4 linked regions of the Homo sapiens genome follow. The protein of the gene in region 3 interacts with the protein of the main gene of each other region in a pairwise test. Each region holds a gene or a part of one and is shown on either strand. Other genes may lie near its edges. The genes, in order: BAHD1, TTC33, COL26A1 and KLF15.

Region 1 (7,030 bases), on a different chromosome or scaffold from region 3:
TCCCCTTCCTTTACTCCCACTTGAATCCCACTTGTCCTTAGTCTGGTTGTTGCTCAGACCACTCCAGGCCAACATAGTCATCCCCGCCTGAGCTCATGACTCTGGATTTTCTAACGTGGTATCCTCTTGAGTGGTTTTGTAGGTTGGAAATTTCTTAAGGACAGGAACAATATGAGTGTTAAACCTCTGTGTGTGTGTGTGTGTGTGTGAATATTCTGGTATTTCTTGTACAGTGCTGTGCACATCATTTTTGTTGAGTGAATAAATGTGGTTGGTTGCTGAGTTAGGCAGGAACAAGGGGGAGACCTTCCTTTCAGCTTCTCCAGAAATGCTCATATTGGAGTCCTTGGAGATTTCCAGCCCTTTCTGTCAAAGGCATATGGATAGGGCATGTTTGGGGTGCTGTAAATGGGAAATTTAACTGCTGTTTCTAATATTTCTGCTGGTGAAGAGTCCTATGGATTGCTTATGTGATACCATATAGACATTGGAAAAGGGCTGTAATCCTGTTTTCCTCCTACCTCACCGGACCACCATTCTTTCTACCCAGCTTTGCTGCTCTTATGCAGTTTTCCTTGTTGTTCATGCTAAATGAATCCATGTTTTATCTCTTCTCAAACCGGGTGCAAATGAGGGAGAAAACACAATTCTGAGCACAGAAAAGAAAAATACTCCTGGGTCTGGCCCATAGATGGGACTTTTGGGGCTGGTTTGGAAGAGGTGTTTATGGGGGCATCACCAACATAAGAGGCACAATCAGCCCCACATTGGACCCCTCATAAAGGAAAGCTACAATCCCTGCTCTCTCAGGCTTCTGTTTTGGTTCACCATCAACCCTGGACCATGGGGGAAACGGGAAAGAGGACTGGTGACTGGTTAGAGGCCAGATAGTGAAAAAATATATTCTGCATCCATCCCCTTTCCCCCAAACCTCCCTTTTGTGCCCCAGTTTGATGATTAATGGACCAGCATTTCCCTTCTACGCGGGAAGGCCACCCCTCACAGTTGCCATGGCAATGCAGACCGCTCCCCCGTCAATTAAAAAAAAAATCCCTACTACTTCTCTCCTCCTTCTACTGTAGCAGGAGAAAAGCTACCTCAGAATGCATCTCCTGGGCTCTCTTCTCAGCTCCTTTAGCTGTGTTTGCTGTGTGTCCTAGAACACAGTCCTTCCTCTCTTTCTGGGGATTGCCTGAGTTTCTTCACTCTGAGCAAATTGTGCCCCTTCTGGAGCCAGCAGCCCCTGGAACACTTATATCAAGAAACAGAGAAAATTTCTGTTTATTTATTCATCCCCGGTGCAAATTAAAAACTAGAGAGAGCTCCTTTTGGGTAAAAAAAAAAAAAAAAAAAACAACCCTTTCACACCTTCTCTGGTTAGAGGTATAAGTTGGGGCACATTTGACATCCAGAAAGGAAGTTTTAGTAAACCTGGAAGGAATTCAGCCTCCTAGCATACATACTTCAAATTGGAGTTCTATGGGGAATTCTCAAAATTATTTTCATTCCTCCTCACCTCTCTGTTCCAGCATCCAGGAGGACTTGTGTGTTTTCATTTTATCTGTTCTTATTCCTCTTGGCCTTGCTCCGGCAACATCTGGCCTCAGCACCCTGTCGCAAGGTGAGTCATTAAGGAGAATAAAAACCTTAAGGAAAAAAAGTCTCTGGAGTTGAGAAGTAGCCTGTGTTGAACTAAGGCTGCCAGGCGAAGCTGCCGAGTTTATGGAGCATTATACGAACAGCCCCGACATTAAAGGGCCTCCTTTTTATGAATGGGTTGTGAAGAATGTAAATAAAGCAGCATCTCTCAATGGGGAAGCATTTTACATAAGCAGTACTACCCCGACCCAAGTATTTATGGGAATTTGCTAGCACAGTCTGGCAAGGCTCACTTCCTTTGTGAACTTGCCATTGTGCTGGGGACTTTGGAGGGACAAGGAGAGTGTGCTTCGGTTCTGAGGGCAGCCCCAGCACTCCCACTCTGCAGGTTTCCTGGCGTTGACTTGATGGGCCAGCTCATGGCTGGAAATGCCTGTTAACCCTGAAGTGACAGAAAATACCATGCGCAGTCAAGAGCTCATGATAATTAGAGATAGAGGCTCCTGATCCTGGGGTCTGGAGATGGTGTAGCTCCTGACCCCTCAGGCTGCTTAGACCTCCACAGGACAGAGGACAGGGAGTTCTTGGATGATGAAATCTTGCCCGGTTTTATGGGAGGCACCTAAGTGGTGTAAAATGGGCTGGTTTGAATTTCAGCTCCTTTATGTTCCCCTGCCCACCTCCTGGTACTGCCACTAATGATCAGTAAAATGGCTAAAAAGGAGGAGGAGAAAGAGCACCAGCAGCAGTGAGGCTGCACGTGGTCTGCTCAGGGCCAGACGGCCTGACAAGCACCCTCACTGAACACCGGCCCAGCCCTGGGGTTCCAACAGGGGTGTTGGTGTCCTGCCCCAGGTGACTTGGTAAGCAGGCCCTGGAGTACAGTCACATCCAGGACTTTGTGTTGTGTCCCTGTGGGTGGGAGTGGGGTCATCAGATTTCATTTTTCCCAGTGGGAAACACCTGCAAGGATGGTTATTCACTTGACTCAGTGTCCCCCCAACACAAAAAAATAACATTGTCTTTTAAGATCCTCTGCAGGCCCAATCCACCAGGAGAAAAAAAGGGGTTTGTCTCTCAGCCTCGCTGATTTGAATTGGGAACTTATTTCTAAGCACTATGACCAAGTTAGCTGAATGAAAAAAAACAGGTGATTTCTTAGTCTTGTTACCAATGTCAGGCAGGAACTTGGGTCTCAATATTTTTTCTTGCATGTGTTCCTTTTCCAGTGGGTTTGGGGAAAAGAGGTGCTTTGACCTCCTGTCTTTGGGTAAGGAGGATGGGACCTGTCTTTCTGCCGTTCTCTTGACCCCAGGGATCTCACCTGGAGTGCTGTTGATGGCTCCTACTTTTATTCCATCTCCAATGCCTTTTGGGGACTCCTAGCCTCCATCAGTGCAGCTTTTTCAGCTTCCTGCGTGCAGTGGAGAGGGGCAGCCCACACAGACCCTTTTCCAACTCTGGTTACCTGTCCACAATGTTTAGGAATAATTGTTAATCACATTCTCATGTGGCCAGGTGGTTTAAAGGTGAATTACTGTTTTTTAGAGGACCTATGTAGAAATCGTGGGAAAGGTATTATTAGGGTGCCGCTTGATGCCAGGAGATCCTAACAAGTATGCCAGAAGGAGGGGTGAAGTCACGTTTCCACCATAGTCAGGGCCAGCAGGGCCTTCCTCAGTAGTGAGGGGTGTCTCCTGCTTTGTGCCTGGAGGGGTTTCCACATTGGCTAGAATGTAAAAAAGAATTATAAAAATGATTGAGGCCAGGTGCCGTGGCTCACACCTTTAATCCCAGCACTTTGGGAGGCTGAGGCGGGTGGATCACTTGAGGTCAGGAGTTCAAGACCACCCTGGCCAACATGCTGAAACCCCGTCTCTACTAAAAATACAAAAATGAGCCGGGTCTGGTAGCATACACCTGTAATTCCAGCTACTCAGGAGGCTGAGACAGGAGAATTGTTTGAACCCAGGAGACAGAGGTTGCAGATCGCGCCAGTGCACTCCAGTCTGGGCGACAGAGCAAGACTCTGTCTCCAGAATAAATAAATAAATAAATAAATAAATAAATAAATAAATAAATAAATAAATAAAAATAAAAATGATTGAATAACTGAGAGATGATTTCCAGAGAAATTGAAAGGACTTGAATTTATTTGGCCCAGAGGGAGGTAGACAAGGGGCAGTTAATATGTCTTTGCATGTTAAGATGACAGTTTAGAGCATGATGACCAGTTTTTAGTCTTCATTGCAGTCTGGGCTGGAGGCAGGGAATTTCACCTGAGACAAGAGGTATTGGGTAGATGCATGGTTGGGGGTTACCTTTTTCTGGATTTACTATAAAATCAGGACAACGTATCTTTGAAGCTCTCTCATTTATTCATTTATTTATTTAGCCCAGACTTCTTAGCATGTCACCCTTTTCTAGGATATAAAATGTTTGTTTCGGCCAGGTGCGGTGGCTCACGCCTATAATCCCAGCACTTTGGGAGGCAGGCGGATCACGAGGTCAGGAGATCGAGACCATCCTGGCCAACATGGTGAAACCCTGTCTCTACTAAAAATACAAAAATTAGCCGGGCATGGTGGTATGCGCCTGTAGTCCCAGCAACTCAGGAGGCTGAGGCAGGAGAATCGCTTGAACCTGGGAGGTGGAGGTTGCAGTGAGCCGAGATTGCGCCACTGCACTCTAGCCTGGATGACAGAGCAAGACTCCATCTCAAAAAAAAAAAAAAGTTTCTTTCAAAAAAAATTTTTTTAATTGTATTTACGTTCTAGCCCATAGATGCCATTTAATTGGAGTACATCTTCAGTTCCTCTGTGGTGGGAAAACTAATAATGTGTGGTAATGCCAATAATTAAAGCACAGAAAAATAAAACTGAACGTGCAAGTTATCTTGCATCTTGGTCTGTGATCCAGCAGCCATCCTGTGATGCCCTAAGTAGAGGCAGTGTGTTGCAGTGCAGGAAGTGTGGGCCTTGGTGTAGATGCCAGGATGGCTCACCTCTGTCCTCAATCCTAGCAACTTTTTATTTTTTAAGAGCCAGCTCTGTCACCGAGTCCAGAGTACAATGGCATGATCATGGTTCATTACAGCTTCCACCTACCGGGCTCAAGTGATCCTCCCACCTCAGCCTCCTAAGTAGCTGGGACTACAGGCACACACCACCATGCCCGACTAATTTTTTATTTTTGTAGAGACAGGGTCTCACTGTATTGCCCAGGCTGGTCTTTTAACTCCTGGCCTCCCACAGCACAGGAATTCTAGGTTACAGGTGTGAGCCACCACGCCCACCCAGCATCTCCTTTTAACTCTTTTTTTTTTTTTTTTTGAGACGGAGGTTCACTCTTGTTGCCCAGGCTGGAGTGCAGTGGTGTGATCTCGGCTCATCGCAACCTCTGCCTTCCAGGTAGCTGGGATTACAGGTATGTGCCACCACGCCCAGCTAATTTTTGTATTTTTAGTAGAGACGGCTAATTTTTGTATTTTCTCCATGTTGGTCAGGCTGGCCTTGAACTCCCAACCTCAGGTGATCCACCCACCTCGGCCTCCCAAAGTGCTGGGATTACAGGCGTGAGCCACCGCGCCCAGCCTTCCTTTTAACTCTTTGTACCTGTTTTTTTTCCTTGTTAGGATGAAATGGTAACAACTAGCTCATAAGGCTGTTGGGAAGATAAATGAGATAGTGAATGTAGTGTGCTTAGGACCTTGCCAGGTGCATAGTGAGTGCTTGACAAACATTGACCATCCTTTTACAGTAGTCACCTCTGCAGTGAATCAGAAATTTCCAACCCTGCACACTTAGGGTGTCTGGGGACTGATAATGCTAACTTTAGTTCTTTGCTCCTGATTTCACCTATCTGTGACATTCTTTGTCTTGATACAAGTGTCTGTAGTACTACATTCACTTGCTTAATGGTTTAGGGGCAGCCACAGCCAGTGGAATGCTTTCCAGAGGTAGCTGGGCAACTTGGGAGAGAGAAGGAGGAGGATGAGGCCAGGCATGGTGACTCATGCCTGTAATCCCAGCACTTTGGGATGCTGAAATGGGAGGATCACTTGAGGCTAGGACTTTGAGACCAGCCTGGGCAACATAGTGAGACCTTGTCTCTACAAAAATAAAAATAAATTTAAAAATTAGCCAGGCATGGTGGTGTAGGCCTGTAGTCCCAACTACTCGGGAGGCTGAGGTAGGAGGATTGTTTGAGCCCAGGAATTCGAGGCTACAGTGAGCTATAATTGTGCCACTGCCCTACTACTGCAGCCTGGGTGACAGAGCAAGACCCTGTCTCAAAAAAAAAAAAAAAAAAGAAAATGAAAATTGATGGTAATGAAGGAGGGTTGTGCCATGAAAATACAAGAGATTTCCTATTGTAACCTTGTTGCACTGTGGATTAAATTGAAGATGCACAGTGGACTCCTGGGGATGGAGGAGAGTTTGGAGGTCAGAGGGCTCTTGTCTTGAGCTCCAAGTGGTGCTCTAAGTCTAGGATAAAGATTTTACACAGGGTGGGGCAGGTGGACAGCCAGATCTTCATTTATTCTTACCAAGCTCTTATTAAGTCATGTGGGTGGGATTTACTGTTAAGGAAGGCAGAGCCTACCTGTCCCCATAGGGCTGGCATCCTATTGGAGGTGGCACTAGCCACTTAACTAGTTAAGTGAGTGATATTTGGGTAGGGTGCCCATAACTCTGATACGATCTGCCTTGCGATTCTGCTCCTGCTAGTGGAGTGTGGGGGAGGCCTGGTCTTGGATCTTGTTCCTCACAGCTGGTTCATTCAGGAGGTTAGTGCTCTGCTGAGGAGGCTGGAGGCAGAGCTCCATCTTGGCCTGGCTGGCTAGTTTCTGTTCAGGACTAGAGCTAGCACCTGTAGTCTTGGCAAGCCATTTTAGAAATCTAAGTTGTTGGTCCATGTAATGTCCTGGTGGTTGAACCAACACTCGTTCTTTGCCATTCCTGGGCAGGTGCTTGGAGAAGGCTGGTGAGCTGTTCATGTTTTTTGAAGAATGGTGCATCAGTAGCACAAGGTTTTCCCTGGTTCTGCTGAGGCCTGTTGCTGAGCTTTGGGGTGCCCTGTCCCCTGTTTTATTCCTGTTTTATTTCTCCCACATTGTTAGCTGCTCAGAGCAAATGGGTTTTGCTGCAGGTGTAGGTTTGCCTCTGGCTGATCCTGGGCAGTATGGCATCTGGATGGGAGGGTCTGAGGGAGCCTTAGCCCAGAGTTAAGGGGTGCCCCCCAACCCCTGCCTGGAGTCATCCTACATGGAGCTAATAGGGGCGAGTCTGGGAAAAGTTGCATTTGTTTCCTGCTTTAAGACTTTAGCTTTTGGGCCGGGCTCAGTGGCTCACATTTGTAATCCTAACACTTTGGGAATCCGAGGCAGGCAGATCCCTTGAGGTCAGGAGTTTGAGACCAGCCTGGCCAA
Region 2 (7,030 bases), on a different chromosome or scaffold from region 3:
TGTGAATGACCTCATAGCCACCCTCACTTTTTTTCTCACCTTCCTTCTAGTGATTACAGGGATCATTTTATTGTGCTTCACTTTATCACACTTCATAGATACTGCGTTTTTGCACATTGCAAGTGCTCAGTAACCCTGTGTCCAGCAAGTCTTTTCGTGCTATTTGTCCAATAGCATGTGTGCACTTAGTGTCTCTGTGCTACATTTTGGTAATTCTTGAAATATTTCAGATGTTTTAATTATTACTATATCTGTTATGGTGATCTGTAATCGATGATCTTTGGTGTTAACAATTGTAATCATTTTGGGTTGCCATGAACCATGCCCATATGAGATGGTGAACTTAATCAATAAATGTGTGTTTTGAATGCTGTACCACCAACTGGCTATTCCCATCTCTCTTCTTCTCCTTGGGTCTCCCTATTTCCTGAGACACAGCAATATTGAAATTAGGCCAGTTAATCCTACAATGCCCTCTAAGTGTCCAAGTGAAAGGAAGAGTTACACATCTCTCATTTTAAATCAAAAGCTAGAAATGATTTTAGGAAGACCTGTTGAAAGCCAATACAGGCTGAAAGCTAGGCCTCTTGCACCAAACAGCCAAGTGGTGAATGCAAAGGAAAAGTTCTTCAATGAAATTGAAAGTGCTACTTCAGTAAACACACAAATGATAAGAAAGCAAAAACCGCTTTATTGCTAATATGGAGAAGCTTTGAATGGTCTAGATAGATCAAACCAGCCACAATATTCCCTTAAGCAGGAGCCTCATTTAGAGCAAGTTTCTAACTCTCTTCAATTCTGTGAATGCTGAGAGAGGTGAAGAAGCTGCCAAAGTAAAGTTTGAAACTGCTAGAGGTTCGTTTGTGAGGTTTAAGAAGCCATTTTCATAACATGAAAGTGCAAAGTAAAGCAGCAAATGCTGATGTTATCCAGAAAAGATCTAGCTAAGATAATTGATGAAGTTGGCTACACTAAATGAGATTTTCTTTTTTTTTTTTTTTTTCTTTTGAGACGGAGTTTCACTCTGTTGCCCAGGCTGGAGTGCAATGGCATGATCTTGGCTCACTGCAACCTCCGCCTCCTGGGTTCAAGCGATTCTCCTGCCTCAGCCTCCCGAGCAGCTGGGACTACAGGCGTGCGCCACCACGCCCAGCTAATTTTTGTATTTTTAGTAGAGACAGGGCTTCACCATGTTGGCCAGGATGGTCTCTATCTCTTGACCTTGTGATCCTTCCGCCTTGGCCCCCCAAAGTGCTGAGATTACAGGTGTGAGCCACTGCGCATGGCCATAAGATTTTCAATGTGGATGACACAGGTTTCTATTGGAAGAAGATACTCTCCAGGACTTTCATAGCTGCAGAGAAGTCAATGCTTGGCTTTAAAGCATCAGAAGACAGGCTCACTCCTTTGTGAGGGCTAATGTAGCTGGGAACTTTAAATTGAAGCCAATGTCTATTTACCGTTCTCAAAATCCTGTTGCCCTTGAGAATTATGCTAAATGTACTTTGCCTGTGTTCTATAAATGGAACAACAAAGCCTGGATGATGGCACATCTGTTTACAGCATGGTTTACTGAATATTTTAAGCCCACTATTGAGACCTGCTCATGAAGAAAAGATTCCTTTCAAAATTTTACTGCTCATTGACAGTGCACCCTGTCATCCAAGAGTTCTGATGGAGATGTACAAGATTAATGTTGTTTTCATGCCTATTAACAACAGCATCTTTTCCTCAGCCCATGGATCAAGGAGCAATTTTCACTTTCAAGTCTTACTATTGAAGAAATACATTTTGTAAGGCTATAGCTGCCATAGATAGTGATTCTTCTGATTCATTTGGACAAAGTCAATTGAAAACTTTCTGGAAAGGATTCTAATTCTAGATAACCATTAGGAATATTTGTGATTCATGGGAGGTGGTCAAAATATCAACATTAACAGGAATTTGGAAGAAGTTGATTACAACCTTCATGGATAACTTTGAGGGGTTCAAGACTTCAGTGGAGGAAATAACTGCAGATGTGGTGGAAATAGTAAGATAACTCAAATTAGAAGTGGAGCCTGAAGATGTGACTGAATTCCTGCAATCTCATGATAAAATTTGAAAGGATGAGGAGTTGCTTCTTAGGGATGAACAAAGAAAGTGGTTTCTTGAGATGGAATCTACGCCTGGTGAAGATGCTGTTAACATGGTTGAAATGACAACAAAGGACTTAGAGTACATTATATAAACTTAGTTGATAAAGCAGTGGCAGAGTTTGACAGTATCGACTCTAATTTTGAAAGAAGTTCTGCTGTGGGTAAAATGCTACCAAATAGGACTGCATGCTACAGAAAAATTTTTTGTGAAAGGGAGAATCAGTCGATGCAGCAAACTTCATTGTTGTTGTTTTTTTTTTGGAGACAAAGTCTTATCCTGTCACCCAGGGTGCCAGGGTGGAGTTCGGTGGCATGGTCATGGCTCACTGCAGCCTTAACCTCCTGGGCTCAGGTGATCCTCCTGCCTCTGTCTCCTGAGTAGGTGGGACTACAGATGTGTACCACCACGCCTGGATAGTTTTTAAAAATTTTTTGTAGAGATGAGATTTCGCTGGTCTCAAACTCCTGGGCTCAAGCCCTCTACCTGCCTTAGCCTCACAAAGTGCTAGGATTACAGGCGTGAGCCAACATGCCTGACCGCTGTTGTCTTATTTTAAAAAATTGTCACAGCCACCAGCCTTCAGTAACCACCACCCTGATCAGTCAACAGCCATCAACATTGAGGAAAAACTCTCCATCAGTAAAAAGATTAGGACTTGCTGAAGGTTCAGATGATCATTGGCGTTTCTTAGCAATAAAATATTTTTAAATTAAGGCATGTACTTTTTTTTTTTTTTTTGAGATGGAGTTTCGCTCTGTTGCTCAGGCTGGAATGCAGTGGTGCAATCTCAGCTCACTGCAACCTCTGCCTCCCGAGTTCAAGCGATTCTCCTGCCTTAGCCTCCTGAATAGCTGGGATTACAGGCACATGCCACCACGCCCGGATAATTTTTGTATTTTTAGTAGAGACGGGGTTTCACCATGTTGGTCAGGCTGGTCTCAAACTCCTGACCTCGTGATCTGCCCACCTCAGCCTCCCAGAGTGCTGGGATTACAGGCGTGAGCCACTGCACCTAGCAAGGCATGTACATTTTTAAAGATATGATGCTATAACACTTAATTAGACTATAGTATAGTGTAAACATAACTTTTATATGCATAGGGAGACCAAAGCATTTGTGTGACCCACTTTTTAGTATTATTCACTTTATTGCAGTGGTCTGGAACTGACCGTGCAACAACTCTGAGATAGGCCTGTACTTATACATCACTTCAGCCATGTGCATCAGTAATGAAGACCTTGAAACCTGCTCGAACTTATGCAGTATTTCATTTCTCTCCCTCCCATACTCCCACAGTGCCCATTCTTTGGTAGTTTCATAAAGCCCTCTGATTCGTTGCTTTTCTTTTCTTTATGTTTTTTGGTTCATTGCTTTTTTTCTCTGTTTCTCTAGTTGATCATTTGATCAAAATCTCCTTGTGGTTATAGACTCCTTTAAGAATGGAATGAAAGCTTAAACACTATTCTCCAAAATGTACACAGATATAAAGAATTTTGTACAATTTATATACAGTTCCCAGTGTTTCTTAGTATCTTGAAGACCATCTATACAACTAGTAAATTTTTGGATCCCTCAGTTAATCTCTTCTCTAAATAAATATTTGTTGAATTATTTCAGGATTTCTGTTAACTTTGTTTTATCATTTATCCTCTCTTTATTTCTTACATTTGTATATCATTGCAGATTTACTGAAAAGTTCAGCATTTGTTATTTATTTATTTTTTGAGATGGAGTTTTGCTCTGTTGCCCAGGCTCACTGCAACCTCCGCCTCCCGGGTTCAAGCAATTCTCTTGCCTCAGTCTCCTGAGTAGCTGGGATTACAGGCATGTACCACCACGCCTGGCTAATTTTTGTATTTTTAGTAGAGATGGGGTTTGGCCAGGCTGGTCTTAAACTCCTGACCTCAAATGATCCACTGGCCTTGGCCTCCCAAAGTGCTAGGATTACAGACGTGAGCCACCGTGCCCGGCCAGCATCTGTTATTTTAAAATTTACCCAATAATTTTGTGAGTTAAGTCGTTTACCAAGTTTGAATCTTTTAAAACCTTTTTATTATGGAAAATTTTAACACATATGAAAGGAAAAAGTACAATGAACACTATGTACTCATCATTCAACTTCATTAGTTATCAATTAAAAGCAATCTAATTTCATGTATATTTTCTCTTGCATTGCACTCCCAACCTCCACTGATTGCTTTAAAACAATTCCTAGATGTCTTATAATTTTATATGAAATATTTCAGTTTATATTTCTAAAACCTAGGGGTTCCTTTTGTAAGCATAATTACAATACCATTATCACACCAAAGAAAAAATAGCCATAATTTGCCAGGTGCGGTGGCTCACGCCTGTAATCCCAGCAATTTGGGAGGGTGAGGTGGGTGGATCACCTGAGGTCAGGAGTTCAAGACCACCCTCACCAACATAGTGAAACTCCATCTCTACTAAAAATATAAAATTAGAAGGGCATTGTGACGCATGCCTGTAATCCCAGCTGCTCGGGAGGCTGAGGCAGGAGAATTGTTTGAACCTGGGAGGCAGAGGTTGCAATGAGCCGAGGTCGTGCCATTGCACTCCAGCTGGGGAAACGAGCAAAACTCCATCTCAAAAAAACAAAACAAAACAGTGATTTCTTAATATCATCAAATATCAAATCGGTGTTCCCATTCCTCCTATTTCATAAATGTTTCCTTCTGGCTGGGTGCAATGGCTCACGCCTGTTATCTCAGAACTTTGGGAGGCCGAGGTGGGCGGATCTCCTAAGGTCAGGAGTTTGAGACCAGCCTGGCTAACATGGTGAAATCCCGTTTCTACTAAAAATACAAAAAATTACCCAGGCGTGGTGGTGCCTGCCTATAATCCCAGCTACTCGGGAGGCTGAGGCAGGAGAATTGCTTGAACCTGGGAGGCAGAGGTTGCAGTGATCCGAGATCGGGCCGTTGCACTACAGCTTGGGCAACAAGAGCAAAACTTTGTCTCAGAAAAAAAAAAGTTTTCTTCTCATTGGCTTTTTTGAATCAGGAGTGAAACAAGATCCACATGTTATGTTGGTTAGTATGTCTCTTAAGTCTCTCTTAATTTAGGGGTTACCTTGTTCTTTCTCTTCTTTCTTTCCTGGCAGTTTATTTCTTGAAGAAACCAGCTTTATTTTCCTTTAGTTTCTGTTTTTTGCTATCTGCATCTCTGATGTGTTATTGAGCATGCTTCACTTTATCCTGTATTTCTTATAGGTAGAGGCCTGATCTGACTCAGGGTTAATTTTTGTAGGAGTACTTACTTCATGAGTGACATGCTACTTCCATCAGGAGGTGTGTGATGTCCAGTTGTCTTTCTTAGTGATGTTAGTGGCCATTGATGATTATTGCCTACAGCCACTAATTAGGGTTGAAAAATGGTGATAGTCTAATCCTGTTATTTCCTCTTTACCTATGGGTTGGAATACTTCCATAAAAGACCAAGTTTTGGGCCGGGCGTGGTGGCTCATGCTTGTAATCCCAGCACTTTGGGAGACCGAGATGGGCAGATCACCTGAGGTCGGGAGTTTGAGACCAGCCTGACCAACATGGAGAAACCCCGTCTCTAGTAAAAATACAAAAATTAGCCGGTGTGGGTGGTGCATGAGTGTAATCCCAGCTATTCGGGAGGCTGAGGCAGGAGAATCACTTAACCCGGGAGGCGGAGGTTACGGTGAGCCGAGGTCGTGCCATCGTACTCCAGCCTGGGCAACGAGAGTGAGACTCCATCTCAAAAAAAAAAAAAGATCAAGTTAGAATTTTAAAGCTGTTTCTTTGTAATTTTCCAGAATGGCTTCCTTTGGGTGGAAGAGGAAAATTGGTGAGAAGGTCTCAAAGGTCACTTCCCAGCAGTTTGAAGCTGAAGCTGCTGATGAGAAGGATGTAGTTGACAACGATGAAGGGAACTGGCTTCATGCCATTAAACGTAGGAAAGAAATTCTTCTTGAAGGCTGTGCTGAGAAAAGTAAACAGCTGAAGGATGAAGGAGCCAGTTTGGCTGAAAATAAAAGGTATGTATTTAAAGTTTTTTTTTTATGGAGAAGAGCTTACATTTTCTAGCTCACTGTCCGTAATGGGATGAAGAGTTATGAATTTGATAAATTCATGTTTAAAAATCTATTCTAGGTGCTAAATTAATCAAAGAAATAAGGTGTTTCAAAGTCACCTGAAAAATGAAAGTTTGTAAAATAGTTTTCAGGATGCAATGAAAGTTTGTAAAATAGTTTTCAGGATGCTAATTATGTCCCTGCTTTGCCATCATTTTTGTTGTGCCTAAAGAAGAGTAAATGCTAAGTAAAATGTAATTCAAGTGATTGGTCAGTAAAAGGTGGTCTTATCACTGGAAACTTTCTGCTTATAACATTATGTATCAGGTAAATTAGGCATTTCCTGAATAGCTTTGAGGGCACATACATAAAAAAAAATAGGTATTTAGTTATTCTTTGCCATTTACTTCTTATATACTTAAGTAAATATGACTTGCTGTACAGGAAGTTGATAATAGCTTCATTTATTTTTAGCCCTTCTTTAGCTAAGTTGTTCCTATATGCACCCATTTCTTTTTTCTTTTTTCCTTTCCTCTTTTTCTTACTTTTTTATTCCTTTTCTCCTTTTTCTGCTTAGATTTTTAAGAAGGACCAAAAATCATTTTTCATTAGTCAGTGGGGAAAAGACAAATTTTTTAGTAGATTCTGTTGAGAAAACTGGATTACTACCTAGAGGAAAATAAAACTGTGTCTGTATCTAATACCATGCACAAAGATGGACCCTGGAGGGATTAAAAATTTGTGAAAGGTAAAACTATGCAATTAATAGAAGAAAATATAGAATGGTATCTCTAATCTATGGTGGAAAAGGCCTTTTTTATTTTGAA
Region 3 (4,680 bases):
CCCTGTCCCAGACCCTGTAATTGGCTCAACTTCCCATTGTCTTTGGTCCCCTGGTGGGCAGACCTTTCTCCTATAACCCAGTAGGATGCTTTTTGGTTTCCTTTTGTTTCATTTTAAGCTAAATTAATCTGAACATAAGACAGATCTGTCATGTTACACCAGCAAAAGGCACCCATTCTGCTGCCAACTCCCAGGGCTGGGCAGGATGGGGACAGTGGCTTTGTCTCCTCATCATCACTTTTCAGAGTGGCCTCGACACCTGCCTTCTCAATAAGTCAGCACCCTGTCTTGGCTGACTCAGGTGTCTCTGTGCACAAGGTCCTCTGCTTGTGTGCAGACCGGGCCCTTGAAATACAGACTCTGCCATCACGCCAGCCTGCCTGCCTGCACTTTGAAATGGTGGCTTTCTCTGCTGTCTTTCTTGCCTGGCATGGCCACACCTACCCTGCCCCTTGCCTGCTGTTTGGTGGCGAGCTCTTGGGCATTCAAGGAAGGAAACAAGCAAAGAACTTCCTACCTTCGGGCCCTGGGATAGGTGCTCTGTCCTGGTTAGGGTATTTTCAGGACATGTGGGGGAAGCTGACAGGCAGCTATGGTGGAAGGAAAAGCTCAGGCTGGAGGCTGACAGGTGTGGATCTGCAGTCTGGATCGGCCGCTTTGCCAGGCTGTGTGGCCGTGGGGAGGTTGCCTGCCCTCTCTGTGTTTCAAGCTCTTTGTCTGTGAACAGGGTTTGAAGCCCTGTCTGGCACATAGTTGATGATGTTCAGTCTATGCTTATTTGCAGTGGTGAGGGTGTCGGGTGGGAAGAGGCAGGGGTGGGGGGCTTTGAGGACACATACACTGTCACTGTATCAGGATGGCCCTGACCCCTTCCTCATGGCCGGCCCTGACCCTGCCTGTTTCCTCCCCGCCAGGGCGAGGGGGTGCAGCAGCTGAGAGAGGCCCTGAAGATCCTGGCAGAGCGAGTCCTCATCCTGGAGCACATGATTGGGATCCACGGTGAGCAGTGACCAGGATCAGCGGGCTGGGAATCTCTCTCCCCTCCTTCCTCTCCCAATGCTGCCCTCATGGCTGCTGCCTAGGGTCTCTGGTCTCCCTCCCTTGCCCCTAGTCTGACCCTCCCCCTCCCCTGCTCAAGGACCCTCAGTGGCTCCCTGCTGCCCTTGACAGACTTCCAAGTGCATCAGCCCAGTTTCCCAGCCCCTCCCTAGTATAGCCATGGTGGGCAGAGCCCTGCCCAGCCATGTTGAGGCCCCTCCCACCTCCATGCCTTTGCTCGGGCCATGCCTCTGCCTGGTGAACACTGACTGCCACTTCGGGACCTGCTCAAAGATCTCGGCCTCTGTGAAGCCTTCTCTGAACCCTCCTCTTTGTCCCTATGGTGACATAGGGGAGGCTTCCATTCCATGCTGGGGTTTCTGTGACCCTCTGGGAGTCCCTTGTGCAGAACAGTGAATGATACCTCTGCAGGGCCTGGAGTAGAGGCCCATCAGCATTTGCTGGAAAATGAATGGATGAATGAATAGGTGAATGGACAGGTGGGTGGGTGAGTGAGTGAGTGAACGAATGGCTGGTTGCCTGGATGAATGTATGCATGGGTGGATGCATAGATAGATGAATGAATGAATGAATGAATTGTTGAATGGACAGGTGGATAGGTGGATGAGTGAGTGGATGGGTAGATGCATGGATGAATAAATGAATGGGTGGATGGATAGATGGATAAATGGATGGATGGATGGATGAGTGGACAGGTGGGTGGGTGAATGAGTGAATGGATGGATGGATGGATGATGGATGAGTGAACAGGTGGGTGGATAAATGAGTGGATGGATAAGTGGGCAGGTGGGTGGGTAAATGAGTGAATAGATGCATGGATGAATGAATGAATGGGTGGATGGGCGGGTGAGTGGACAGGTAGGTGGGTGAATAAGTGAGTGAATGGATGGATGGATGGATGATAGATGGATGGGTAAATGAGTGAATGAATGGATAGATGCATAGATAAATGAATGACTGAGTGGATGGATGGATGGATGGATGGATGGATGGATGGATAGATGCATAGATGAATCAATGAGTGGATAGGTGGGTGGGTGGATAAGTGAGTGGATGGATGGGTGGATGGATGGATGGATGGATGGATGGATGGATGGATGGATGGATGGATGGACGGGCAGGTAAATGAGTGAATGAATGGATAGATGCATAGATAAATGAGTGACTGAGTGGGTGGATGAATGGGTGAATGGATGAATGGGTGGATACACAGATGGATGAATGGGTCAATGGACAGGTGGATGGGTGAATGAGTGAATGAATGGATGGATGCATGGATCCATGAATGAATGAATGCATAAGGGGCTGAAAGCCTGCTGCTGCCTTGCTTCTCCACGCTGGGCAAGAGCATCTCTCCGTGGCCACATATCATGATCAAATGTACCCCCAAGTGTTCCTAAGGCTCTACCTCGAGTCCACCCTCCTGCTCTCCTTCCAGATCCCCTGGCCTCCCCAGAGGGAGGTTCTGGCCAGGATGCTGCCCTGAGAGCCAACCTCAAGATGAAGAGGGGTGGCGCCCAACCCGATGGGGTCCTTGCTGCCCTGCTTGGGCCCGACCCTGGACAGAAGAGCGTGGACCAGGCCAGCAGCAGGAAGTGAGAGCCCACTGCTCCAGGACACCCTGTCCTGGCTAGAGACCCAGCCCCAGAGGCCTGAGCCGCCGCTGTTTCCTAAAGATGCCCCCAGGGGAACTGGGCTCCAGGCATGGATGATTGTGAGGACATGGGGGGCTTTGGGGACAGATAATGTCTCCAGGGGCAGGGTCTGGAGGGGCCAACACCCTCATCAGAGCCCTCCTCTGGCCTGTCCCCTCCCCTACCCCCACTCCCGGCTGGAGACGGGGTCTGGGTGGGCTGGGTGCTGGGAATGAGAATAATCCTAATACCCATCATTTATTGAGTCCCTGCTGTAACTGGCCCTGTCCAGGGAACTTTCGTTACGTTGTCTCATTATTTAACCCTTAGGAGGTAAGCTTATTATCCCCACTTCACAAGGGGACCGAGGCTCAGACGGTAGAAATAACCCTCTCTTGGCCACCAGATCACGGGTGGCAGGGGCAGGATTTGAACCCAGGACCCTCAGTTCCTGAAGCCATGTTCTCTCGACCCTGCCAGCTTCCCCTCTTCGAGAGAAAACTCAGACAGGGAGGGCGCAGGGCCAGAACGGCTCCTTAAGGCAGGCAGGGCTGCGGGGAGGCTGGGCCAGCCAGCCTGAGGGGGTAGGCAGGGTCCTGCAGGGCCTGGGGCTTCCCTTCCTCATCCCCCTTCCCCACTGGCTGGGGGAGCAGCCTGGACTGCAGCTCTCAGAGGCCAGGGAGACCCTGAATAAATCACTGCCAGCCATACGGACTTGAGGACCTTGAGAGAGAAGCATTGGGGGTGCAAGTGTCCACCAAACCAGATAGGCATCCCTGGCCACTGCCTCCCAGTCTTGCTGAGCCCACCCGCTCTCTCTGGGTCCATCCCATCCCTGAGCCAGGGGAGGCAGCATTTCATGGGCATGTCTATCAGAGGTGGGACTTGCAGCCTCTGCCCCACGAGTTTGTCTCTCAGTGGACTCTATAGGTTTGCTACTTTTGCATGACACAGCAAGCCCAGTGTCCCCTTTGCAAGCTGCAGAGAGGGAAACAGAGTCCCAGGCCTGCTGGGAAGAGATGCTCCTGCCTCCCACCTTCCAGAGTTGGGGGCCTGGCAGGCTCCATGGCAGGCACCAGGTCCCTAGCAGCCCAGAACAGCTCTGACTGGAGCCCTCAAGGCCTCTGGGGCCAGGGTCTCCGTGATCAGCTCAGCCCTGGTGTTCCTCTCTTGCTGGGCTGGGACCTGGGACACAGCCACGGCAGCAAACTCAGAGAATTGAAGGTGCTGGCGCCACCCTGGGGCACTCTGTCTTCACAGCAGGAGTGACTGTCTCCAGTGCTCTTGGTACTCCTGTTTGGCTGTGGCCTGGTCCCTCTGGGCCCTGGGATCTTCTTCTGGCCCTTGAGGCAGGTCTGGAGAGGCAGTCTCTGTCTTCATGGAGGGGTGGTCAGAGGCGGGCGGGACCACCAGCCTGTAGCGTTATTATTATATGTGACAATAAAGGTGCTCTCCCCACTGTGGGTCTGTTTGTGTGGTGACAGCTCTGCAGGAGGCTGGTCTGCATCTTACCGGCCAGGTGCCAGGGAAGCTGTGAGCAGCTCCAGCCAGGCCCGGGGTGACCACAGGGCCTCTGTGGCAGGGAGGTCCAGCTCTGCCCTCAGGACCTCCAGGGAGGGGGCTGGGAGTGACACACGATAGGCAAGCCCCGGATTGGGGCTTAACCTGCAAGGGCTCTTGGCTTCACCCAGCAAAGAATTCAAGGGCAAGCTGGAGGCAAGAGAAACAGCTTTATTGGAGGGGCAGGACTACAGCTCCATGACTGCTCGTGCAGAGCAGGGCTTCTCCCCAGGCAGAGAATAGCAGCTCAGGGCAGTTCTGCACCATATTTATACCTACTTTTAATTGCATGCAGATTAAGGGCTGGTTTATGCAGAAATTTCTAGGGAAAGGGTGGTTATTTCCGGGTCATCAGGTCTTTGCCATGGAAAAGGGCAGTGGCTCCTGAGTGTTGCCATGGTGATGGCAAACTGACATGGCACACTGG
Region 4 (7,855 bases), on a different chromosome or scaffold from region 3:
ATACCATCATCAGCTACAACCTTGAGCAAGTCCTTGCTCCCCTTCCCAAACCTTAGTTTCCTCATCTGTTCCATGCTTCAAAGATCTCTAAGTCTCTTCCTGCTCAGGGACCCCAGGACCTTTAGCCCCAGTTCCCAACTTACCCAGGAAGCTTCACGGAGCTCCAGGAAACTAAGGCAAGGTCTGTGCCCCAGGCCAGTTTTACTAGGAGGACATTTGGCTTTTTGGTTTAAATACTCAGCTAAGGATTTAAACCTGGAATATGTTTTAAAATGCACCTATTCACCAAATCAGGTGCTGGGAAGGAATGAAAGTGCTAGACACTGTGAAGGGCACAAGGCTGGGCAGAGCCCACACTCCACCCTGGGCCTCCCCCAACCCTTTCCCACCCTCCAAGCAGGGGCTCCATTTCTGAGTCTGCAAGTTGTCTGCCAGGTGACCTCAGGCAGGTGCACAGCCTTTCTGTGTCTGTCTCAGTCTGTGAGATGGGGGTGCTTCCAACAGTGCCTGGTTCCTCAGGTGTTGTGAGAATTCCGTGAGCTGACGCTCACTAAGCACCCCCCTCAGGATCTGGCACACCGGCAGCACTCAGCCAGTGCCAGCCATTGGTGTCAGCCTGCAGGCACGGCAAACGTTCGGCCTCTGCCCCTCTACTGTGATGTTAAGGAATCAGGGGCCTCCAGCCCTCCTGGGACCCAGAGCAGGCCTTAGAGCCCTCCCCTGAAACGTGATCACTAACTGGCCATCCCATGATATTAAGTAATTACTGTTAATATTTTTAATTGTGATGATCATATTGTGGTTAAAGGAGGCCTTACCTTTTAAACATATAAACAGATATTGACAGATAAAGTGATCTAAAAAGTACAGTAGGGGGGCTGGAAGGAAACACCCTCCAATGGCTTCCCAAGGACAGGTGGCCCTATCTCCTCGCAGCAGCCCAGCACCTGGGCCCTTGGGACTCTCTGCAGACCTCACCACCAACTGCCTCTCTTCTAGTCCAGGTGTGCTCACTTCACTTCAGCCTCAGCCCGGGGCCACTGCCCTGGCTCTTCCCCCAGCACTGCAGGTGGGAGCTGCTTAGTTAGATCTCGGCTCAGAAGTCACCCCTGTGGGGGCCTCCAGGCCCACTCTGTTACATCATCCTATATTATACTCTTCCCTGCAGTTTCTACTGTGGGAAACTATCTTGGTGATGTGTTTGTGAACTTTCCTCCCTGTCTACCTTCCCATCAGAATATCAGCTGTCCTGACTGTTCACTCCAAGGCCATATCCCAGAGTCTAAAACAGGACCGGGCAAAATTTGCTGAATGAGTGAATGGAAGGTGCGGGGGAGAGCGGGGGAGGTCGGAGAGTAGGAATGGGTGGCCCAGGTCAGCCAACAGGGTCTTAATGCTGGGCTGAACGTCCCAAGGGGGAAGCACCCAGGCACTGACAACCCAGAAAGGGCTCTGGGATGTCCCAGGGCACCGGCATTAAAGAGAGGACACTCTAGGGCTGGAGCTGGCTCGGCCCCTGAAACACAGCAGCACGTGGGGCGGCCAGAGGCGCAGGCTGCGTGCAGGGGGAGGGGACACGCTGTTCCGGGCACAGTCCCCGGCTGGCCGCCGGACTCCGCCCCCTCCCCTGGCCCGGCCAGGCCTGCTGTTTATCCTCCCGGGGACACAGCGGCTGCAGGAACAACATGTAATTGATAACAAGCCCAGCGCCGGCCAAGGGCTTGCCATTGGGTCAGCGTGCAAATCACGGGGGTGGCGGCGGGGGCTGTCCTTCAAAATAAGAGTCTCCGGTCCCTGAGCCGCCCGCAGGCCCCAAAGTCGCAGAGTCCGGGCGTCCTCACACCTGTAGGGCGGCAGGGTCTCCCCAGGGGCCACCTGGTCCGGGGGGACAGGGGGAAGGAGATTTGAGGCTCTCAAACAATTGTTGATTTTGTCACCTCCGAGGGCCGTGGGAGAAAACAGCCCCTCTGTGCCCTCCGTGAGAGGGGGGTTCCATGAGTAACACCAAGGCGGGGAGGGAAGAGTGAACCGGACCACCATATGGGATGGGGACGGCCTCTCTGCCCCGCCGCCGCCATCCCTCGGTCAGGCCATGGCTTTGGTAATGTTCGGTCTGAGCGGACGGGGACTCAGCGTGGAGTGAGACGCGTGAACGGTGCGGGTGTGCGTGAAGGGGTGTGAGTTCCTGTCGTGTGACTGCGTGTGCGGGGCGTGGTGCGCGGCAGCCGCTGTGGCTGTGCGGGAGGCTGTCCGCGAAGGACTCGCGCGTGGAGCCGCCGTGGGTGCCGGCGGGTGAGGGGAAACGTGCGTGGGAAATGAAGAGAGCCGGCTCAGACCCCTTCTAGAGTCCTGGACCGCTGCCCGCTGGGCACCATGCCCTCGTCCCACGCCCCCCCCTTGCCCCCGACACTGCTGCGGTGACCGACAGTAACCCCTCCGTCTCCAGCCCCTCCGCCCCCCAACCCCGGGCTGGCCAGCGCGTCCGCTCTCCCCCTCCTCTCACCAGGCCGCGCCGGTGCCCACCATATGGGAGGGCCGGCCCGCAAGGCGCGCCACGGAATCGCCCGGCCAGGCACCGAGGCGGCGGCGCGGGCCTCAGCAAAGTGCTGGTGGGCGACCGGGGCGGGGGGGGTCACCTCCCCCGGGCCAGTCCGACCCCTGCCCACCTCCGCGGGGGCCCATCCCGCTCCTCCGACATTCCTCCAGCACTCGCGCGGTGCCTCCGAGAGCTGCGCGGGAGCACGGCCACGCGCCCCGAGGCCGGCCAGCCCTCTGATCACCCGGGGCCGCGTCCACGCGGCCGGCCGGCCCCGCCGCGCCTCTCCCACCTGAACTTGGCGCACGCCGGACCGGCGGCCAGGCCCCGGCGGTCCTGCGGCCGGGCGGGCTGGGCTGGGGGCGGCGGCTAGACTCTCGGTCCGGCGGCGGCCGGGGGCCGAGCCGCGGGTCCTGCGCTGGCTCGATCGCCCGCCGGCCCGCGGGTCGCTGCGGCGGAGCACTAGCCCGCCCGCAGCTCGCTGGGCACTCACTCCCCGCCGCTCACGTGACGCAGCGGGCGCCGCGAAGGCTCGCAGGAGGCTCGGCCCCGGGCGCGCGCCCCATTGGCCCGCGCTGCGCGTCACACGTCCCGCCCCGCCCTGGCCCCGCCCTGGCCCCGCCCCGGCCCGCCCGCGCGGCTCCCGGACTTGAGCGGCGGATGCTCGGGGATCCCGGAGCTGCCAGACGCGCACGCCCCCCAACACGCTGCCTGGTCCCTGGCCCGCAGCCACCTCCTTGCTTCCCACCTCTCGCCGCTGTCTCGCGGCGTCCACGAGGGCCGGCTTCTAAAGCTCGGTTCCCAAGGTGAGAACGTGAGACTGGCCTGAAGACTTAAGAAAAGCTCTGAGATCGCCCCAAAGTGCAGTCTGCGTGATTGAGCGGGAAGCGCTGGGGAGCCTGTCTGGCCCGGTCTGGCCCACGTCCCCACCTTCATCCCCAGCGCGGTACAAGCAGCTCTGTCCCCCGCTGAGTGTCAGATAAATCACTTGCCTAGAAGGACGTATTTTTGGATAAATACGGTATTGGGCTTTCAGCAGGACAATCAGTTACCCTCCGGAAATTGCGCGCGCTCTGCGCTGCCACCCTGCCCTCCAGGACTAAGGAGGTTTGCTGACCGGCCCCCCCCCCCCCCACCTGAAACCAATGACACCTTGTCTCTGGGGCACCTTTCTGAAGACCAAACAATGCTTCGCAGTCTACAAAAGCGTTCGTAGACTGCTTTAGTCCGCAGCAATCCTGGCTCGCATTTGGGTTCCCGCTTAGAGACAGGAAGAGTAAGGCTCAGAGTGGCTTGCCCAAGAAAAACACGTGGGCTGACGGTGCTAGGCACCCTGCTGTGCCCTTTAATCCACACTCCAGCTGGATCCTCAGCCAAGCACTTTACAGATGAAGAAACCGACTCAGAGAGGGCACCAGCCCTCCCCAGCCCCACAGCTGGGAAGGAGCAGGTAGAGAGGTAGAGCCAGGTCATCTTGCAGACACCCCCAGGCCACCTGTGCAGAGCTGTCCTACTGAGCTTCCTTCCTCTCCCCTCCTGGCACTGGGAGGTGGGGAGCATTTTCTCCTGCTTCTTCTTGAAGACATTGCTAGAACAGGAATTTTTAACCATACCCTTTCCAGGCTCTCTGGAATGCTATAGGTCTAGGCTTGCTTGACCAGGGATCTGGGGACACTGTGCACCAGGTCAGTGCCAGGGATTCAGCTGCTGCTGCCACTAGGAGCCAAACCAATGCGTTGCCAGAGGGCTTTAAGGACATTTGTGTTGAGGATGGTGAGAGGCTTTCTAGTTCACAGAAGTTGGAATGACCACTCTGGCATTACAGCAGCCCTGGCTAGCCTGGGCAGAACAGTGGAATTTGTCCATTTTCATAAGAGAAGAGATAGAGGCCTGTATTCCTCATTTTGTCTCAGTGCAGGTCTGGATTGGGCATAGCCACAGCACTTCTCCATCTGCCCTGCCCGCCCTCGGTCTTCACTCCTCACATACTCTCAGTCTAGTGCCTCCCATCTCCTTGGTGAAAGCTGCAGCAAAAGGTCAGAAAAAGCTTGGAAGCAAAGACACATCGTTAGCACCTTCAGCACACAGGGAGGAGGCCCCACTGGCTAGAAACTGGAGAACAGCCAAGATGGTCCTGTTAAAACCTGAGTCAGATCAGGTCCCTTCTGGGTTCAGAAGCTTCCAGCAGCTCCCAACTCACTCAGAGTAAGTAAAGCCCAAGTTTTCACCACAATCTTTAATGCCCTACAGCTAGGTACAGCATTTACCCCAAACCATATCTAAGGAGAAAAGCTCCCTCAATATAGTGGGGAGAATCTATCATTGAGATTCCTTGGCAGAAAGGAGAGAACAAAGTCAGGTGGTGCTCTTCAAAACAGATGACCAAAAACAGTAAAGATTTATCTTCATAGCAGTGAAAATCTCTAAGTTTCTTTTCTTCCAAAGCAATTCCTTCCCTACTTCTACATAATCAAGTATAGAAAAGGGCCTTGGAAGGATATAAATTATATTGGTTAAATATTGTATGACCTTGCCTATAAAACCATTTGGGCCTGGTGCCTTTTTGGAGTGATCTTTCTCCATGCTTGAATTTCACACATTTTACCAGGATATGTCTGACTCTAGCCTCCTTCTGTTTTCATTGTTACTACTCTATGCTTGGTGTATCCTTTTAATCTGGAAACTCAAGTCTTTCTTCGTTCAGGGAAACGTTCTTCTATTGTCTCTTGTTTCCCCCTAAACAGCTGCATGGATTGCTCCATCGCATACTCAGGTCTCTGCTCAGATGCCACCTTATCCCAGACACCTTCCTCACCCATCCCGTCTAAAACAGCACATCTGCTGCCCTCAGTTTCCTGGCCTCTGTTTATTTTGCTTCATGATCCTGATCTTTATATTATTTATTGATTTGTTTCTTGCCTGTCTCTCCTATCAGGAGACAAGCTCCTTAAGAGCATGGACTTGTATTTTTTTATTCACTGCTGTATCCCCAGAACCTAGAACACTTCTGAAACATGTTGAGGAAATGAGATTTTCTTCTTGCCCCAGTAAAGCTGCCAATGGATATGGGATCTTTGGAGAAGCTCTTCAAGGTCTGGTGCTCTCTTCCACAGTACTGTAGCCACCAATCTTGTCCTCATCCCCTGTTCCACACACATACCTGAGACTTCCAGCCTCCCCACTAGCTCATGCCTGCCCGGGGGTCTGAGCCCAGCCTGCCCTCTTCCAGGAAGCATTTTGAGGGCCCCATTCAGTGGCTCAATGGTCTGTGCACAAAGGGCCCACTGTGGCCATCAAGCCCTGTGACCTCCCACAGTGACTGACTTCTCCTCACCCTTCCCAGGTGGGAAGCAACAATTCCCCCTACTCTCAGCTCCCCTGTCCCCAGCCATGCTTCAAGGGTCTCTGGCCAGAGTCCCTTACCTTCTCACCACCTCTTCCTCTAAGGGCTGGGGTGCTGAAGAGATCCTACCCATTCTGGGCTCAGGAAGTGGTTTTGAGCTGGAGGCTAGGGAATAGGCAGGCAGAAGGGCTGCTGGTGCCCAGGGGCCAGGAAAAACATGCTGCAGGAGGTTCCTCAGGCTGGGCTGGACCGTTTCCCCACCAAGCAGACCCCTGGTGCTGTGTAGACAAGAGGTCAGGTCTGTTCTGACACCAGGCGACTCAGATGAGGGCCCACTCCTCTCTCATGACCAGTGTTGTCCCCACCCCCAGCCCCCCAGCCCTGAGCACACCTAGCTTTGAGGAACATCAGCCCAGGGACCTGGGGACCTGGTGGTCCAAGAAGACACAGAGAAGGGCTGAGTCCTGAGAGCCTCTGCCCTGAGAGCCTCTGCCCCTGGCTCTGAGCATTGGCAAAGCCCCAGGTATACCCCTGCCCGGAGGATCCAGAAGCAGCAGGGGCTGAGGTGGGATGAGAGCTCCAGCTTCCCCTGGTCCATGGACACATCAGTGTGGTGCTGGGGTCAGAGGGCTCCTCAGCTTCCCCTCATCCCCGTCTCTGCCATGAGTTGTGGTCTCTCTGACACCTGACAGATTTCCAGGCAGGCAGGCAGCCTGAACCCCAGCCTAGTGGGGCTGTACATGCGTGGCAGCCTGGACTCTGGTTCTTTCACACAGTCCCTCACTGCTGAGTGGCCTTGGGCAAATCAGTTTGTCTCTCAGAGCCTCAGTTTCCTCATCTATAAAATGGGTGCTCAGACCCCTATCCTACTTACCTCAAAAGGTTGTTTGAAGATAACCAAAGTAAGAGATGGGAAAAGGCATTGGAAAGTACAGAGATTCATTACAGGCTGTTACCATTCCTTCTGATATGTATTCACTGCTCCTGGACAGCCGTCCTGCCAGTGCCGAGCATTGCTGCGGAGATGAGATGCCACTCACACTGCCAGGGCCTCCTGAGATCCCAGTGCAGTGTAGGGGGCCCAGCAGGATGACGGTGGTGCAGGTGATAAGGACGAGTGTGAAGGGGGCTATGGACGCCACCCTGGGGAGACGCACTGGGAGCAGCAAGGAGCAGCACCAAGGAGCAGGAAGAGACCACAGAGCAGGGCAGGTTAGCTCTAGGGAATGGGAGTGGCCGCCACTCCAGGCTCTCTCATGGAAGGGTGTACCAAGCCCGGCAAAAGCTAGAAGCCAGGGAAACAGTGGCCACCTTGTCAATAGGATGAAAGCCATGGGATTCTCTGTCCCCTGTTGGTTCAATTTCAAGCCTCCCAGACTGGTGTTCAGGCCATTCATTTAAGTAATTCTTTTAAAAATAACACCTGCACACATTTTTAAAGTTCAAGCACTACAGAAAGGCATGAAACAAAAAGTAAAAATTCTACTCAGCGCCAGTGCCACCTACCAGTTCTGTTTGTTGTTGTTGTTGTTCTAAATAATGTTCTGGGCTGGGGACCGTGACTCACGCCTATAATCCTAGGACTTTGGGAGGTCGAGGCGGGCGGATTGCTTGAGTCCAGGAGTTCCAGACCAGTCTAGACAACAGGGCAGTTTCGCCTGTCTCTACAAATATACAAAAATTAGCCAGGCATGGTGGTGTGTGCCTGTAGTTAGTCCCAGCTACTTGGGAGGCTGAGGTGGGAAAATTGCTTGAGCCTAGGAGGTGGAGGCTGCAGTGAGCCAAGATTGCACACTGCGCTCTAGCCTGGGCAACAGAACAAGACCCTGTCTCAATAAATAAATAAATAAATAAATAAATAAATAAATAAATAAATAAAAATATGCCTGTGTCTTTTGTGTCTGTACAACAAGTGTATGGCCCCACCCTGCCTGCCAAATAGTGTCTGTGCCCCCAGAGGCATGGCTGCATAGACT

What was found.
Region 1: the proteins of COL26A1 (region 3) and BAHD1 interact in binary tests that used the Homo sapiens proteins (3 or more experiments, as listed by UniProt).
Region 2: the proteins of COL26A1 (region 3) and TTC33 interact in binary tests that used the Homo sapiens proteins (3 or more experiments, as listed by UniProt).
Region 4: the proteins of COL26A1 (region 3) and KLF15 interact in binary tests that used the Homo sapiens proteins (3 or more experiments, as listed by UniProt).

What each region holds. Positions count from the first base shown.
Region 1 is NC_000015.10:40,443,923-40,450,952, forward strand, and holds part of BAHD1 (bromo adjacent homology domain-containing 1 protein), read left to right. Parts: exon of another isoform or gene 1-1,479; coding exon of another isoform or gene 1,480-1,621; intron 1,622-7,030.
Region 2 is NC_000005.10:40,745,935-40,752,964, reverse strand, and holds part of TTC33 (tetratricopeptide repeat protein 33), read left to right. Parts: intron 1-5,945; 5' UTR 5,946-5,946; coding exon 5,947-6,167; exon of another isoform or gene 6,168-7,030.
Region 3 is NC_000007.14:101,554,873-101,559,552, forward strand, and holds the end of COL26A1 (collagen alpha-1(XXVI) chain isoform 1 precursor), read left to right. Parts: intron 1-914; coding exon 915-999; intron 1,000-2,497; coding exon 2,498-2,658; 3' UTR 2,659-4,152; downstream 4,153-4,680.
Region 4 is NC_000003.12:126,354,409-126,362,263, forward strand, and holds the start of KLF15 (Krueppel-like factor 15), read right to left. Parts: upstream 3,001-7,855; 5' UTR 2,829-3,000; exon of another isoform or gene 2,699-2,828; coding exon of another isoform or gene 2,667-2,698; intron 1-2,666. UniProt on the Homo sapiens protein: Transcriptional regulator that binds to the GA element of the CLCNKA promoter. Binds to the KCNIP2 promoter and regulates KCNIP2 circadian expression in the heart. Is a repressor of CCN2 expression, involved in the control of cardiac fibrosis.